Linked DNA regions of Homo sapiens: region 2 is linked to region 1. Evidence: fine-mapped expression QTL. A gene starts in region 1. The other region holds a variant in brackets. All regions are shown on one strand. Distances are from middle to middle.

Region 1 (8,314 bases):
ACCTTGGTGTGAACCTGTGTCCACAAGGCAGCCAAAGCAGGGAGGGGAAGGCGTCCACGTTTAGTTGATTTGTTGTTTTATCCAGAATGGTGATCCGTGAAGTCTGGAAGAAATTCTGAGTCGTCACAGAGTGTGGGTGTTCTGAGACTGCGGGCTGTCTGTTGCTGTCACTTTTGTTTTGTTTGTTTTGGTTTTTTTTTTTTTTTTTTTTTTGAGAGGGAGTCTCAGTCTGCCGCCCAGGCTGGAGTGCATGCAGTGGCACAATATCTGCTCACTGCAACCTCTGCCTCCCAGGTTCAAGTGATTCTCCTGCCTCAGCCTCCTGAGTAGCTGGGATTATAGGTGCGCACCATCATGCCCAGCTGATTTTTGCATTTTTAGTAGAGATGGGGTTTCCCCATGTTGGCCAGGCTGGTCTCGAACTCCTGACCTCAGGTGATCCACCCGCCTCAGCCTCCCAAAGTACTGGGATTACAGGCGTGAGCCACTGCGCCAGGCCTCTTTGGTTGGGTTTTTAAATTTTTTTAAAATTTTTTTGAGACGGTGTCTCACTCTGTTGCCCAGGCCAGAGTGCAGTGGCACAATCTCAGCTCGCTGCAAACTCCGCCTCCTGGGTTCAAGTGATTCTCCCACCTCAGCCTCCTGTGTAGCTTGGATTATAGGCACCCACTATCATGCCTGGCTAATTTTTGTATTTTTGTAAAGATGGGGTTTCACTACATTGACCAAGCTGGTCTTGAACCCCTGACCTCAGGTGATCCACCCACCTTGGCCTCCCAAAGTTCTGGGGTTACAGGCGTGAGCCACCGCGCCTGGTGGGCTTCTATTTTGTTTTGAATGGTAAGTTCTGTGGTTTGAATGTGTCCTCTCCAAAATTCAGATGTTGCCAGTGTGAACATATCAAGAGGTGGGGCCTTTGAAGAGGCGATTAGGCCATGAGGTCTCCTCCCGTGTGAATGGGATGAAGGCCCTTCTGAAGCAGCATCCTGCTAGGCTGCTCTGCTGCTACGGGACAGAGCAAGAAGGCCCTTACCAGACGCCAGACACTCACCTTGTTCCCAGACCTCCCAGCCTCCAGAACTGTTCTGTTCTTTATAATTTACCCAGTCCCAGGTATTTTGTTATAGCAGCACAAATAAACTAAGGCAGTAAATAAATAATTTCCTTAAATTTTTTATTGCAGTAAAATATACAGAACATAAAATTCACCGTTTTAACCTTTTTTTTTTTTTTAGACAGGTTCTGTCTCTGTTATCCAGGCTGGAGTGCAGTGACACAATCACAGGTCACTGCAGCCCCCAACTCCTGGGCTCAAAGGATCCTCCCACCTCAGCCACCTGAGTAGCTAGGATTACAGACTATGCCTGGCTAATTTTGTCCAGCTAATTTTCACCGTGTTGCCCAGGCTGGTCTGGAACTCCTGGCCTCAAGCAATCTGCCCACCTTGACCTCTCAAAGGACTGGGATTACAGGCGTGAGCCACCACACCCGGCCTGGCCTTAACCTTTTTTTTTTGAGACAAAGTCTCGCTCTGTTCCCCAGGCTGGAGTGCAATGGCTGGATCTCGGCTCACCACAACCTCTGCCTCCCGGGTTCAAGCGATTCTCCTGCCTCAGCTCCCAGGTAGCAGGATTACGGGCATGCACCACCACGCTCGGCGAATTTTGTATTTTTAGTAGAGATGGCGTTTCTCCATGTTGGTCAGGATGGTCTCAAACTCCCGACCTCAGGTGATACGCCCAACTTCGGCCTCCCAAAGTGCTGGGATTACAGACATGAGCCACTGCGCCCGGCCTGCCCTAACCATTTTTAAGTGCACACTCCAGTGGCATTAAGTACATTCACATTGTCGTGCGACCATCACCCCCATCATCTTCTCCAGAATTTTTTTTTTTGTTTTTTTGAGACGCTCTGTCGCCCAGGCTGGAGTGCAAAGGCTCGATCTTGGCTCACTGCAAACTCCGCCTCCCGGGTTCACGCCATTCTCCCACCTCAGCCTCCCAAGTAGCTGGGATTACAGGGTTGCGTCACTATGCCCGGCTAATTTTTGTATTTTTAGTAGAGACAGGGTTTCACCATGTTGGCCAGGATGGTCATGAACTCCTGACCTCAGGTGATCCGCCCGCCTCAGCCTCCCAAAGTGTTGGCCTTACAGGCGTGAGCCACCGCACCTAGCCTGGGCTGACCTGCACAGAAGTGCCATCTACCTACCCTCTGACCTCTGTCATGTGACCTGGGGCAGGGGATGTGACATCTCCACCTTCTAAGTACCCCACTGTCATGGGGTAGCTCCTCTCTCAGGTGCTGGGGCTCAGGTCCTCTCCTGGGTCTCAGCAGGTCATGGTCTGCTCCGGGGCTATGCATACTGGTTTCAGTAAGTGCTTGGTAGATCTACCCCGCAGCATGGAGCAAGTGCTGGGTCGGGTGCAATGGACTCAGTATCTCTGAAGGAGGAGATGTCTCTTGCCCTCTCTCCACAGCTAGAGCTTTCACTAGCTACAGAGCTACAGCCAACTCCTGCACCAGCTCAGAAGGTAGAGCCAGCTCCGGCTACAACTCGGGTGCTAGTTCCAGGATCAGAGCCAGCTCCAGCAACAGCTCCAGCAGCACACCCAGAGACAGGGGCAGCTCTGGTCACTTCTGTGCCGGCTCCACTATAGCTCCAGCATCCGCCCTCTAGCCAGGACCAGTTCCAAAACCATTTGCATGGTTAGGGCCAAATATCAGCATCAGGTTCAGAAAAAGAGCCAGGGCCAGCATCAGCTACAGGCCCAGCTTCAGCACCGCGGCTCACACCAGTGCGGGTTCCTGTACCAGCTCAAGAACTATGGCCACAGCCAGCACAACTCCAGATCTCACTCCAGCTGCCGCACCAGCTCTACCACCTACTCCAGAAACAGAGGCAGCTCTATCACCAAATCTGGTGCCACCTCCGGTGACTGCTCGGGCACCGGCTCCAAAACCACTTCCAGAGTTTCAGCCAGTTCCAGGTGTAGACCTCAAGCCAGTGCCAGGTTCAGAGGAAGGGCCAGCTGCAGCACCACCTCCAGAGCCAGAGCTGGCACCAGATATAAAGCGATGGCTGATTCCACAACCAGAACCAGAATTAGAGGCAGCTCCAGAGCTACAGCCATCTCAGACCTGCACCAGCTTCAGAACGAGAGCCAGAGTTCCTGCCAGCTCTAGAGCGAAATCCAATCAAGAACCAGCTCTAGCACCATATCCAGAGCTAGGACCAGCTCTGACACTTTTCCCAGGGCAAAGACTAGCAACAGCAACACAGCTAGAGGCAGCTCCAGAGCATCGGTCCCCGGGGCAGAGCCAGCTTGTCTCCAACAACCGTGTCAGTGCTAGGACAGAGCCTGCACCATCTCTGGAGGTGGAGCCTGCTGTGGTGCCAGCTCCAGCCCCAACACCAGAGCTAGAACCCAGCCTGCTGGTGGGGCCACACAGGGAGGAGCCTCAGACCGCGCAGTTGCAGCCCAGTTGCAAAGTGTCCTGGGGTCCTGCGCTGGGGCTTTTCTTAGGAGCCCTGGGGTGTTTTCTGGCTTTGCAAAGGCAATGAAAATTTGAGTTGAATTTATCACCAGCTCCTGCTCCCTCTAAGCCAGTACCCGAGCTGGAGCCAGCTCCTATGCCAGCTCCCGCACCCCGGCCTTCCTGGCCTTTGCCTGTGGCTGCAGAGAGCAGGCTGAGCCAGAAGCCTCATCTCCTGGTGTCCCCTCCAGGCCTAAGGCTAGAGCGGTCTGCGCTGTGCAATGCGGAGGCTGCCCAGCCCCAGGACAGCAGCGCGGCCTTCCTCCCGGCCCCTGCGGCTCAGGCCTGTCATCCCCTGCTCTGGAGCTCGCGTCCTGGTCCGAGTCCCGGCGGCTCCACCGTTCGCAGCCCGGCGACCGCGGCGAGTCGCTTGGCCGCGAGGCCTCGGTGTCCCGCCCTGCGCGGTGACCGAGGTCCCAGGACACAGCGCAGACAGGGCGCTAGTCAGGCCTGGCCGCGGTAATCCCGCCTGCCGGGACCCTCGCCCGCCTCAGCACTCATTAGGCGCCTGGTGTGTACCCGCGCCCATGGCCGACACCGGCAGAGCCCCTGGTGGGGAAGGGACGGAGCGCGTCGCGGGAGCCCCATGCTGCCCGGGGTGGGCGCTGCTCGACAGTCACGGGAGCCGCCCCAATGGCTGGGACCACCGGGACCCACGGGCTCGTGGAGCGTCCTCCTGACCCGGCCTGGGAATCCTCCGCGAAAACGGGGAGCCGCGCGTGTCCGTGGCGTGCCCGGCACCCGGCGGGTCGGAAACGGCGCGGCCCTGGCTGCTGGCCCCGTGGGGCGGTCGCGGTGCAGGACACGGGTCACGGCGCTGCCGCTGCTCTGCGTGGCGAACCCACACGCCCGCCCGCCAGCCACTGAGCAGCGCCCACGTGCGGGCGCGGGGAGCTGAACGGCCGGGGACCGCTGGGGGGCGCTGCTTGGGCGGGGCGGATTGACTCTTGCGGGCCGCCGTACGCGCTATAAAAGGCGCGGCGCTTCCCTTCTCGTCCTCTGCGTGCGCCGGAGGCTGCCGTGGCGGGTGGGCCGCCTGACTTCTCCTCCCGGCCAGTTCTCGAGCGCCTCACCGGGCCTCGCCCTGCAGCCTCGCTCTCGCTGGCGCTGCGCGGCCTAGGGGACTGGGCTGCTGGCCTCCGGGTGCGGGGTGGGGGCAGGCTCCGACCTGGGGCGTCCTGGCCGCGCGAGCCGCGGGATGGGGGCCCGGGCCGCGGAGGAGGCGCCGCTGGTGTGTCCCTTGGTGGAGAGGGCGCTGCCGGCCCTGCGCGGTTTCCAGCCAGGAAGCTTCGGGAAGCCTGGTGAGAGCTGAGTGCGCGAATTCGGATCTTAGAGAAAGGCACCCCGTTCACCCACGACCCTTCCGCTCCTGCCGCTGCTTCCCTGAGTCGCTCAGGCTGTGGGAAGATGTTTGTCGGCATCTTTGAAAAATTGATTTCTTATGCTGCGTCAGGTGGTTTCCTTGTCACTGTGGCTGCTCAGCGGGAGGCTGTTCTGGCGGGAGGAGGACTGCTCGGTTGTCTGGTGGGCATTCCGCCTCGTGGTCCTGGTCCCTTGATACCTGCAGGGGATCAGCAGCCCGCGTTTCGTGGCCACTGTGTTGTAACTCCAACTTCCCCTCCCGCAAATTAAGCGTAGAGTAAGGGGAGAGAGTAACATGGGTCGGATTTTTCTAGAACGGCCCTTGTGACAGTGAGCTTTTTGGTGGCAGGGAGCTTCTTTGGTCCGCCTTCCTGGAGACCAGATGCAGCAAAACGCAGTCTTTTTCTTTTCGAGACAGAGTCTCAGTTGCCCAGGCTGGAGTGCAGTGGCGCGATCTCAGCTCACTACCACCTCTGCCTCCTGGGTTCAAGCGACTTTCCTGCTTCAGCCTCCAGAGTAGCTGGGATTACAGGCGCCAGCCACTAGGCCAGCTAACTTTTTTTTTTTTTTTTTTTAGAGAGACGGGTTTCACCGTGTTGGCCAGGCTGGTTTTGAACTCCTGACCTCAAGTGATCTGCCCGCCTCGGCCTCCCAAAAAACGCAGTGTTTATGTGATGCTCCTCTGTGGTGTTTGCAAGATTTATACAAAATTGCGGTTTCTTTTTTTCTCTAGGACGTCTGCTCACTGGAGATGACACGTGCGTGGGGTGTTGGGTAAGTTGGTGCATTGGAGCTGGAACAGGGTCAATCCTCCAATGTAACTAAGCCCTCCTGTGCAACATCTTAAGTGACTGGAGGGACCAGTCGGTCTTGTGTTCACATTGAGGCTAGAAGCTGTCTCCAGGGGAGTAAAAACGGATTATTTAGTCTTCAACAGGACACTGCCCCTAGAGGCGTTGCAGCTGTGGCTGCCGTGTCACATCTGTGTCATTAGGTGGCAGAGATTAGAGAGGCTATGTCTACGCTCAGCGTTCTGCCCCGTGAACGTTTGAATGTTTGATAGTCTCACACTCCTGTTTTGTGGACAGGCATCTGTTTTCCTTCGCTGGTATCTGGGAGAGAGGGTGGGCCCTGTGAGTGGGCTTTCTAACTCTCGCGCTGGGCTAGGCTGGCCTCTAGGGGTCTGAAGGGATAGTGGGAAGGTGGAGGGTGCCTTCACCAGGAGCAGCCTTCATGAGTGAGTTTTAAGAACCTGTGAGGATCGGTCAGGTCAGGTGAGGTACGCGCTGGATCATGCCGTACACCGTGTCAGGATCACGCAGGACAGGACTGGGGAAGGGTTTGCTGGCGTCTCGGTTAATAGCAGTAACGGCAGCCGCTTGTGTTCTTGATTCTTTGCCAAGCATTCTTGTTATTTAACACGGGAAGGAGGTGACTTCGCCTGTGATGGACTTCCAGTGTGAGCACTGGCCAGAGTGACCAGGCTGACCAGCACCAGCCCTGATCCAGGTAAGAGGTGAGGCGGAGGCTTGCCCTCCTTCCCTGCCTGCCGGGTGCGTGTGAGCGGCTGCCCTGCGGATGCTGTCCTGGACCTGTTGGCACCACAGACAGTTGCTCTGCTGTGCCTGTGGCCTCGGGGCAAAGAGAAAGTGGCGATTTCTACACTCAGTGCTCGGGAACCAGTGGGCACTGAGAATGGTTTATGGCCTGACATTACTTGCAACCAAAGCCAGGCAGCATTTGGATTTTCGCTTTTGGAAACCACCTTACCTGGTTTGCTCCATGAGGGAGGGGCAGCAACATCGCTGGGAACCCTGAGGTGTAGATATGTATAAATGAGCTGTGTGTGTATCTGAAGCTCGGGCACTTGTGGGGTTACCAGGAGTGTGCGTCTCACTCCCAGGCCTCGTTCTGGAAACGATTCTGTAGGTCTGTCTGGGAGGCCTTAGGCAAGTTTGATTAAGAACAGTCGAGCTGGATAAACAGGCTGTTCCTTGTCCAGCACTAGTCATCCCAGGGGGGCGGGGGCGGGGCTGCAACTCCTGTGCACAAAGGAAGGGCCCTGGGTAGGGGTCAGGAGCTGCCTTGCCCAGAGATGTGTCTGGGTCACTTTGGAAACAGGAATCCTCTCCCCAAAATGGGTAGCAATGGGGGTACAGAGGCCAAAGACGCAGCTGCATGTCCTGCAGTGCCTGGGACGCCCCGTAGTGAAGAGTGATGTGGCCCAAATGTCAGCAGTGCCAGTGTCAGACTCCTGCTAAGAGACAGTATCAAGAAAGATAACTTCAAAATACACTTTCTGGAGGCCTGGCGCGGTGGCTCAGGCCTGTAATCCCAGCACTCTGGGAGGCCAATGCATGTGGATCACCTGAGGTCAGGAGTTCGAGACCAGCCTGGCCAACTGCCTGAAACCCCATCTCTACTAAAAATACAAAAATTAGCCAGGTGTGGTGGCGCAAGCCTGTAATCCCAGCTATTTGGGAGGCTGAGGCAGGAGAATCGCTTGAACCCGGGAGGCAGAGGTTGCAGTGAGCCGAGATCGCACCACTGCACTCCAGCCTGGACAACAGAGTGGGACTCTGTCTCAAAAAAAAAAAAAAAAAAAAAAGTACAGTTTCGGGATTTCATAAATTGGGTTCCCTGAGGGTCATTTGGTGAATCCGGGTTAAAGAACCCTGGTCTGCATCACTGTCCTTGTTTGTTTTTCAGATGCAGAGGCCAGGATGTGGGCCCAGCCCTGTGCCAGGAGGCTGGCTGGAATAAAGGTACAGATAGAGGCCTCACCCCCTCTGGGACCACTGGCACTCAGGGTGTTTGCAGCCTCAGAGCCCACCTGCCCCCAGGGCCACAGCTGCATCTCCTGCCCTGCTGTCATTACAGGGATGGGCAGGCTGGCATGGGGGCAGCCGCTGCCCCTGCCTGGGTGTTGCTGTGTATTCCTGCCGGCCAGGGGCCACTGCCAGGACCACGCCTCCCTTTTCATATCCCGATTCTTAAGTTCTGCTATTGTGGTATTCTGGTGGAGAAAAAAGAACCGCGTGGCTGTTTTTGAACTGCCTGGAACCTAAGACCCTGAATTCTTTTCCCCCCCAAGGGGAAAATCTATATGGAAAACATTTATTTTAAAATACAGGATGAAGTGAATTAAAAGATTTAAATGCACATTTCTTTAAGGATAATATTTCTGTGTTGGCAAAATTTGAGAGTAAATTGGTCTTGAATGGAATGGATTGTCTTGACTCACACATTGCGGAGCAGAGCCCGCCCTGAAGAAAGGTGTTGCTGTGGTGGGATCTTCCCACGAGGGTCCTTGCCTGTTCTCCTAGGGGATGGTTGCTGGGTGCCCTGGGCTACTGGGGAGAGCGTACGGGGCTGGAGAAGATGGCCATTCCTGGGCTGTTTCCTAGGGAATGAG
Region 2 (8,314 bases), 270 kb before region 1:
CCAGCACTTTGGGAGGCCGAGGCGAGCGGATCACGAGGTCAGGAGATCGAGACCATCCTGGCTAACGCAGTGAAACCCCGTCTCTACTAAAAATACAAAAATTAGCCAGGTGTGGTAGCGGGCGCCTGTAGTCCCAGCTACTTGGGAGGCTGAGACAGGAGAATGGCGTGAACCTGGGGAGGCAGAACTTGCAGTGAGCCGAGATTGTGCCACTGCACTCCAGCCTGGGCGACAGAGCAAGACTGCATCTCATTAAAAAAAAAAAACAAAAAAAACAGAAGCTCACTGCCTAGCAGTCTGGAGGTCAGACATAGCACCTAGGCTTGGGCAGGGCTGCTTCCTCCCAAGGGCCTTGGAGAGCATCCGCTTGGCTCCCAGGCTTACAGATGTGCCACCCTGATTTCTGCCTGCGGCCCTCCCTGTGCATCTGTGTCCAAACTCGCCTTTCTATACTGACATCAGTCATATTGGATCAGGGCACATCCTACTCACCACATTTTAACTTGATAACTTCTATAAAGACCCTATTTCAGCCGGGTGCGGTGGCTCACACCTGTATTCCCAGCATTTTGGGAGGCCAAGGTGGGTAGATCTTCTGAGGTCAGGAGTTCGAGACCAGCCTGATCAACATGGTGAAACCCTGTCTCTACTACAAATACAAGGAAAAAAAAAAAAAGCTCAGCGTGGTGACGTGTACCTGTAATCCCAGCTACTCCAGAGGCTGAGAAAGTAGAATTGCTTGAACCCAGGAGGCAGAAGTTGCAGTGAGCCGAGATTGCACCACTGCATTCCAGCCTGGGCAACAGAGCAAGACTCTGTCTCAAAAAAAATGTTAAAAAGCCCCTGTTTCCACATAAGGTCACATTCTTTATTTTTTTTCCAAGATGGAGTCTTGCTCTGTTGCCCAGGCTGGAATGCAGTGGCACTATCTCTGCTCACTGCAACTCTGTCTCCCGGGTTCAAGCACTTCTCCTGCCTCAGCTTCCCGAGTAGCTGGGATTACAGGTGCCTGCCACTATGCCTGGCTAATTTTTGTATTTTTAGTAGAGACGGGGTTTCACCATGTTGGTCAGGCTGGTCTCAAACTCCTGACCTCAGGTGATCCACCCCCCTCGGCCTCCCAGACTGCTGGGATTACAGGCATGAGTCACCGTGCCCGGCCCATATAAGGTCACATTCTGAGGCACTAGGGGTTAGGACTCCAGCCTAAGAATTTAAATTTAAGGGGACACAAGCCACGCCATTTACCTAATCTCAGGCCCTCCCTGCAGTGGGCATGCATGGAGTCACCTTTTCCGTCCTTCTCCCTGGACACAACTGGAGTCTCCCATAGACAGGGTGGTGGCCGTGCCACGGAGCCACGCCACGCCACGCCACGCCACGCAGTGGGGCAGCCAGCACTCACTTGCCCTTCACAGGGAAACCGGCCGGGTGTGGCAGCTCGCGCCTGTAGTTCCAGCACTGTGGGAGACCAAGGCAGGTGGGTCACTTGAGCCCATGAGGTGGAGACCAGCCTGGGCAACATGGCAGGACCCTGTTTCTAGTAAATAAATGAATTGATTAAACCATAAAAAAAAAAGGAAGCCACCGGGCTGATTCCCAGGTGGCGAGGGCACAGGGGGGTGTTGGATGGCCACTGCCGCTCCACAGTCCACAGCCCACGCCCACAGAACGCAGTGGGGCCGCTGCAGCGGTGAACCGAGTCTTGTTGGTTTGTTTCTTGAGACGGGCGTGAGGTGAATGGTCTTCCTGTGTCTTGTTTTCTTTTTCCTTCTGAGCCACCGGTTCACGGCCTCTGTCCGTGCCGTCATTTTTCCTGTGGGTTTGTGAGGGTGCGTCTGTCGGTGTTAAAGACACAGGATGCCGGGGCAGCAGAGGGGGCTGGGGGCCTGGGGCTTCTCTGTGGTTGGCCATTTGCCTGCCAGGGATGTGGGAAACCAGCAAGCGGAGCTATAACCACAGTGTCCAGAAAGAGCTGAAATACTAGGGCTTGGAATCGAGGTGGAGGCCGGATGGAGGGAAATTGAGGTTCAGGACACCAAAGGATGGGGCAGCCACATGGTATTTCCAAGGCTCTGTGTCCAGGAGCCCCGACTGGCGTGGTATCCAGAGAAGCATCAGGCTGGGCTGACTGGGGCAGCACTGGAGTGTGTTCCACCGGGGACGGATGAGGGGCCCGTACCAAGGCCCTGGGGAGAAGGTGAGCAGGAGAGCAGTGCCACCTCAGCTGCCCTGTCCAGGCTGGTGAGGCACCACACCGCCTGGGGGAGGTGTGGCCAGGCCAATCCTGTGGGCACCCCAGGTCTCTGGGTGGAATCTCCCCTCGGTGTACCTCCCTGGGGCTGCACCCTAAAGCGTCAGGGCCAGGTGGGAGGAAGGCACAGTTGGCGACCCCAAAGGGCCAGACTGAACTGTGGGTTCCAATCACGCCAGGAGGCTCAGCGCAGGCTCACACCTGTGGACCACCACCCTCCCCTGGCCTCTTTCTTCCAGCCACGCAGGCTGTGGCTTCTAACCCCTCTCCTGCTGCTTCTTTTTAAAGGTTAAGGGGTTGGGGGTAAGAAACCTGCGCTGAGCGCCAGTGGGAGGGATGGGAGGTGGGGTGGAGACCTGCACTGCCGGCCAAACACCAAAGCCAGGCTGGCCTCCCCGCCCTGTTGCGGGCAGGTCTGGAATTTGAGCCCTGCCCTGAGCGGGGAGGGCCCTGCCTGACTGCTCCGTAGCTGGGAAGGGGCGGCTCCCCCAGGTGGGCTTATCACCCTCCCGATGCCCTGGTGCTGCAGATGGGGAACTGAAGCCAGGCTGGGCAGGCCATTTCTCCTGCTCACCCACACCCACTGGCTTTCTGGGCTGGGAGCCCTGACAAGGGGTATTTGCGGAAGGGAGAGCCATAGGGCAGGGTCTGAGCTGGGTTCACGGTGGAGGTGGTCCTGACCCAGAGCCGCCCCCTTCCCAGGTGACACCCCCTGCACCCTTCTGGCCTGTAGGCTCTCCCTATGCCCTGCCCCCTGGTCTCCACCCACCACGCTGGCTCCCAGCACACTCAGTACCGGGTGGGCGGATCTCCGTGCACACCAGACTCAAGTCCAGGGCAGCCCCCCACACCATTCCGCCACCCTGAGGTCACACCCTCAGGCTCAGACACCCCGGGGCCGGGCTGGCGTTGCTCAGGCAGCTGGTTCTGCGCGCTGGGCAGCTTCATCTGCCCGCCTAGGTGGCTCCACGGGGCGGGCCCCTCGGCCAGGGAGGGCGGGGCGCACAGGGAGACTTAAAGAGCTCCCCAGGTCCCCACCCGCGCCTGACCGCGGCAGCTCCCACCATGGCGGAGACCAAGCTCCAGCTGTTTGTCAAGGTGCAGGGCGGACTCAGCTGCGGGGAGGGTGTCTGGGAGGAAGCGCTTTTCTGGGCTTTGCTTTCTGTGGCAGGCTGTGGGGTGGGCCTCCCAGTAATGTCTGAGCCCCTTCCTGTGGGTGGCTAGGGGGACTCAGGCAGCCCTACAGAGGCTGAGTAAAGTGGGACCCAGCGAGTCACCCAGAGAGGGGTCAGTGGCCCTGGTCCTGCTCCCAGCCTTGGCTCCTGGGCCCAGCCCAGTCTTCTGGAGGAGAGCTCCTTGGTGGGGAGGTACCAAGCAGGCTGCCAACAGTGGAGCTTACGGTCGGTGTTCCAGGATGGGGGGTGCTGGGCCAGGCAGCCCCATCAGCTCTCAGGTCGGGGACTGGGGTGGGGGACTGATGTGCTGTTGGCCACAGTGCCCAGTCTCATGTGTGAATCACTCAGAAAACAGCTTGTGAGGCCCACCCCACCCCTGCAACCAGCTTTTGGGGACTGAGCCCAGGGGCCTGGCCTCTGTCCAGGCTCTGACAAGATTCCAGGGGCCAAGCCTGCCCCAGGCCTCAAGGCTCCCAGCAGCTCTGCCCCCCTCCCCACGTTCTGGGGACCAAGTCAAGGGCCCTCACTGGGCACTTGGAAGTCGCGCCGACCAAGCTGGAGCCCTGGCGTCCCTCCAATCCCACTGGCAGTGGGAGGCGGGTCCCGCCCAGCCTGGCGGCAGGATGCCTGGGTCTGCTTCCAGCCCTGACCCCCCACCCCCGCTCCACCCACCCAGGCGAGTGAGGACGGGGAGAGCGTGGGTCACTGCCCCTCCTGCCAGCGGCTCTTCATGGTCCTGCTCCTCAAGGGCGTACCTTTCACCCTCACCACGGTGGACAC[G/C]CGCAGGTGAGGCCCCATCCTGTGGACCCCCGCCTGGCCTCGCACACTGGTGGGCCGGCCTCCTCCCACCCCGCTGCTGCCCGCAGGTCCCCGGACGTGCTGAAGGACTTCGCCCCCGGCTCGCAGCTGCCCATCCTGCTCTATGACAGCGACGCCAAGACAGACACGCTGCAGATCGAGGACTTTCTGGAGGAGACGCTGGGGCCGCCCGAGTGAGAGCCCCGGCAGGGTGGGAGGGGAAAAGAGGGGGGCCCAGGGAGGACGCGCGCAAGACAGAGCCCAGGAAGGCGCTGTGGGGGTACTGTGGGGCCGGGACGGGGCTGCCCCCAGTCTAATGGAGTCCCACCCCCTCATCCCGCAGCTTCCCCAGCCTGGCGCCTCGTTACAGGGAGTCCAACACCGCCGGCAACGACGTTTTCCACAAGTTCTCCGCGTTCATCAAGAACCCGGTGCCCGCGCAGGACGAAGGTGAAGCGGGGTCAGGGGGTCGGGTGCCCAGGCGGGAGGGCGCCCTGGGCCTGGTCCTCACCGCGCCGCCTGCCCCCTAGCCCTGTACCAGCAGCTGCTGCGCGCCCTCGCCAGGCTGGACAGCTACCTGCGCGCGCCCCTGGAGCACGAGCTGGCGGGGGAGCCGCAGCTGCGCGAGTCCCGCCGCCGCTTCCTGGACGGCGACAGGCTCACGCTGGCCGACTGCAGCCTCCTGCCCAAGCTGCACATCGTCGACGTGAGCACGGAAGGTGGGCGGGCGGGAGGGTGACCGCGGCGCGCCTGGGGGACGGCAGGTCCTGACCGCGCCCCGCGATCCTGCCCGCAGACGGTGTGCGCGCACTTCCGCCAGGCGCCCATCCCCGCGGAGCTGCGCGGCGTACGCCGCTACCTGGACAGCGCGATGCAGGAGAAAGAGTTCAAATACACGTGTCCGCACAGCGCCGAGATCCTGGCGGCCTACCGGCCCGCCGTGCACCCCCGCTAGCGCCCCACCCCGCGTCTGTCGCCCAATAAAGGCATCTTTGTCGGGAGTGAGGGTGTCCTGACATCTGAAGGGCCAGAGGTCTCGGGATCACTTCCCATCCCCAAACCCCAGGGTGGGACGCTCAGCCCGATAGCCCAGAACCACAGGGGCAGGAGCGCCGGGGGTCGGGCCGGTCCCATCCTCCACGCTAAGAAGGCGCAGACTCCAGGCCTCCTGCAACCGGTGGCCTCAGGGATCTCCAGGACCGGACTGGGCTCCCAAACCAGTCAGGCCGGGGTGGGGCGGGGTGCCCCAGGTGGATGGGGGCTGGCACATTCCTCAATCCTGTCCCGGGGCAGGCGCTCCCCTCCCCGCAGGGCACTTCCAGTGTCTCAGGGTCTACACGGGACTTCTGTCTGCATCCTCCCACGGGGCTCCGTGCCCTACCTGGGTGCGGCCTGGGAGGGTGGGAACAAAGTTCTAAGCCTTGGGGAGCCCTGGCCCTGCCTGGCTGGGCCCCTCTCAGCTCCTGGGCTGGCAGGGCTGGAATAGCTGGACGGTCTGAGAGTGCTCACCTCCCTCCGGCCCAGCAAGGAAGTCTCCAGGGAGCTGAGAGGCTGCAGCATCTGTTCACATCCTGTGGCCCTACACCCAGAACACAGGCCCAGGGGTGTTCCCTGATCCCTTCCCAGGCCAGTGCCAGGAGTCAGAGCCCCACCAGAGCCTCCAACCAAGGGAGCTGTTTATTTGACAGGGAAGGAATTTGAGGAGCCGTGTTAGTCCTGGCCCAGGACAGGCAGGTGGAGGTGGTGGCGGGGGGTCTCTGATGGGGGCCTCAAAGACTGCCTCTCCCCTCATAGGCGGACTCCCCGCGGGGCCACGCTTGTGCTGCACCTTCAGGTCTCATCGAAGTCCACGCCACCAGCTGGTTTCTTACTGGGAGGGAAGAGGGGTGTCACTATGGCACTATGGTGTGGAGAAAGGGGTGGGGTCCAGGATTGGACCCTGGGCGCAGGAAGGGGGCTGTGGGAGGGTACCTCTTGAACCCGGGGTTGATGAGCGACTCTCCTGGACACCGCCTCCTGACTCCAGGTCCAGGGCCACCTCTCTGGGGATCTGGGTCTGGGGGAAAACAGGACAGGGGCAGCTCCTGAACCTGGCAGCATCCCAACCACAACCTTCTCCGAATAGATAGGCATTCTCTCTGGAGCGTGAGTCTTGTTTGGGGGGAAACTGAGTTCCAGGTTAAAGAGCACAGCCCTACTTGAGTCACAGGCGGACATGCCTTACCTGGTAAGAAGAGCTGAGGCCCTGCAGGCCGGGGGCTCTTCCTCGGGCTGACAGCTGTCTCTTCTGCAGCTGGGGAGGAAAGCCCATGGGAACCCCACTCAGTGCCAGGAGTGGGGGCAAGAGCAGGGGACCCCAGTGAAGGTATGAGGTGCCCACCCCCAATCCTACCTGCCAGTCGCCGCTCCAGGCTCCACACGCGTTTTGCCAGGCCCAGTGTCAGCGCCCGCAGCCTGGGGGCTGCCTCTGGGCCTGGTACCTTGGAGAGGTCAAAGGCCAGTGCCGAGGGCCCCCCTGAAAGCGTCAGGGATGCTCTGTCCTCCTGCAGAGTCAGAGCCACAGCTTGCTGCTCACAGGCTGCCCTGGGAGAGGAGAGGTGCGGAGAGCTGTGGCAGACCCTCCTCCTCCCCACCCGTCCTTCCTCCCTGCTTGGGTCTCACCTGAACCGGGGGGTGATGTCCTCAGCCGCACTCAGGCCAAAACGGGCTTTCTAGAGAGCACAGGGGCTTGTCACGAGCTGCCTGGAACCCGAGGCCCACTGGGGGCACCCGAAACCTGCCCGACCCCAGAGCCCTAGCCAATGGGAGGACTACAGCTACAGGGCGGGCAGAGGGTGTCAGAGCCTTCTGGGGAATCCCAGATGTCTGTCGCCCCATAGACGATCTGCACTGCAAGGAGGGGTGTGGCGGCTCCCAGACCCGCCCAGTTACCCACGAGGGCCGCCAGGCTGTCCGGCGTGAAGCAGGTGCTCCAAAGCTCCGCGGCGTCGGTCACGCTGGGGGAGAAGGCCTGTCAGGCGGGGCCGCCCGCGGAGCTCCCTGCACCCCTACCTCCCCGCGGACCCCCACTCACTAGAGGTTGAAGCCGCCGCGGTCCCCCTCCCCGCTTTCCTCCCCTTCGCAGTAGCACACGAAGCGGGGCGGCTCGGGGCCCGGCGGCAGCGTGCAGAGCGGCGGCGACAGCGGATCCATGGCGCCGGGCGAGCGGGAACCCGGCGGGGCGGGGCTTGGGCGCCGGGAGGGGCGGGGCTGTGCGGGCTCAGGGCTCCTGCGCGGAAGAACGACTTCCGGAGCCGGGTGCAGGCCAGTCGCGGGCTTAGGGAGCTTGCGCGGGGCGGAGTCTGGTTGGGGGCGGGGTCTGTGTGTGGAGGCGGGGTTAGGGGCGGGGTTATGAGGGTGGGGGGATTCGGGGCGGGGCTAAAGGCACAGGCCGGGCCGCGCGGACCCGGTACCCGCGCGGGCTTCAGGCGACTAGAGGCCGAGTTTAGTGCGCGGGGCGGGCCGGAGCAGGGCGTCCTGGGTCAGGGATCCAGAGGCCCTGCCCCCAGCGCTGGCCTCGCCGGTCGTGGGCTCCACGGCGCGATCCCGGGCTCTGGCCCTCGCGCCCGCGAGCAGCCCCACTCGAACCTCGCCCCCTCCCGCCCCCGCCCCGGCTCCAAGTCCAGCCGAGTCCAGGTTCCCTCCGTGGCTCTGCGGATACATCCTGGAGCCCCGCCCTTCCATCGTCTTCACACACAAACCGGAAGCTTCCTAACTCTAATCGTAAGAAGTTACGGTTGGTCCGGCAAGGTGACTCACGCCTGTAATCCCAGCACTTTGGGAGGCCGAGGCGGGCAGATTGCCTGAGGTCAGGAGTTCGAGACCAGTCTGGCCAACATGGTGAAACCCCGTCTCTACTAAAAATACAAAAAAATTAGCCAGGTGTGGTGGCGCACGCCTGTGAGGCAGGGGAATTGCTTGAACCAGGGAGGTGGAGGTTGCAGTGAGCCGAGATCGCGCCACTGCATTCCAGCCTGGGCAACAGAGCGAGACTCTGTCTCAAACAAACAAAAAAAGAAGTCACAGTACAGAGCGATCTCCAGGGAAG

What was found.
Region 2: its variant is fine-mapped to the expression of SNHG7 in adrenal gland (GTEx, PIP 0.98).

The regions. Positions count from the first base shown.
Region 1 is chr9:136,724,405-136,732,718 of GRCh38, reverse strand. It overlaps SNHG7 (small nucleolar RNA host gene 7), which reads left to right and starts at 4,535. Exons shown (of 5, transcript NR_024543.1): 1 at 4,535-4,838; 2 at 5,633-5,673; 3 at 6,303-6,408; 4 at 7,609-7,664; 5 at 7,780-8,125. It overlaps DIPK1B (divergent protein kinase domain 1B), which reads right to left. Exons shown (of 5, transcript NM_152421.4): 5 at 7,977-8,314. It overlaps LOC124900276 (cuticle collagen 2-like), which reads left to right and starts at 4,535. Exons shown (of 5, transcript XM_047424334.1): 1 at 4,535-4,838; 2 at 5,633-5,673; 3 at 6,303-6,408; 4 at 7,609-7,664. It overlaps SNORA17B (small nucleolar RNA, H/ACA box 17B), which reads left to right and starts at 6,482; the gene lies at 6,482-6,615. It also overlaps SNORA17A. RefSeq lists enhancers at 1-127, 3,188-3,337 and silencers at 3,785-3,954, 4,108-4,787.
Region 2 is chr9:136,991,549-136,999,862 of GRCh38, reverse strand. It overlaps PAXX (PAXX non-homologous end joining factor), which reads right to left and starts at 7,441. Exons shown (of 7, transcript NM_183241.3): 1 at 7,301-7,441; 2 at 7,163-7,223; 3 at 6,889-6,938; 4 at 6,620-6,810; 5 at 6,452-6,520; 6 at 6,199-6,283; 7 at 5,887-6,097. The coding sequence starts at 7,419. The coding sequence ends at 6,058. It overlaps CLIC3 (chloride intracellular channel 3), which reads left to right and starts at 3,295. Exons shown (of 6, transcript NM_004669.3): 1 at 3,295-3,352; 2 at 4,106-4,215; 3 at 4,296-4,421; 4 at 4,571-4,677; 5 at 4,758-4,933; 6 at 5,024-5,255. The coding sequence starts at 3,320. The coding sequence ends at 5,182. RefSeq lists an enhancer at 6,706-7,248 and silencers at 7,206-7,585, 7,596-7,885. The variant G/C (reference allele first, on the strand shown) is at 4,210.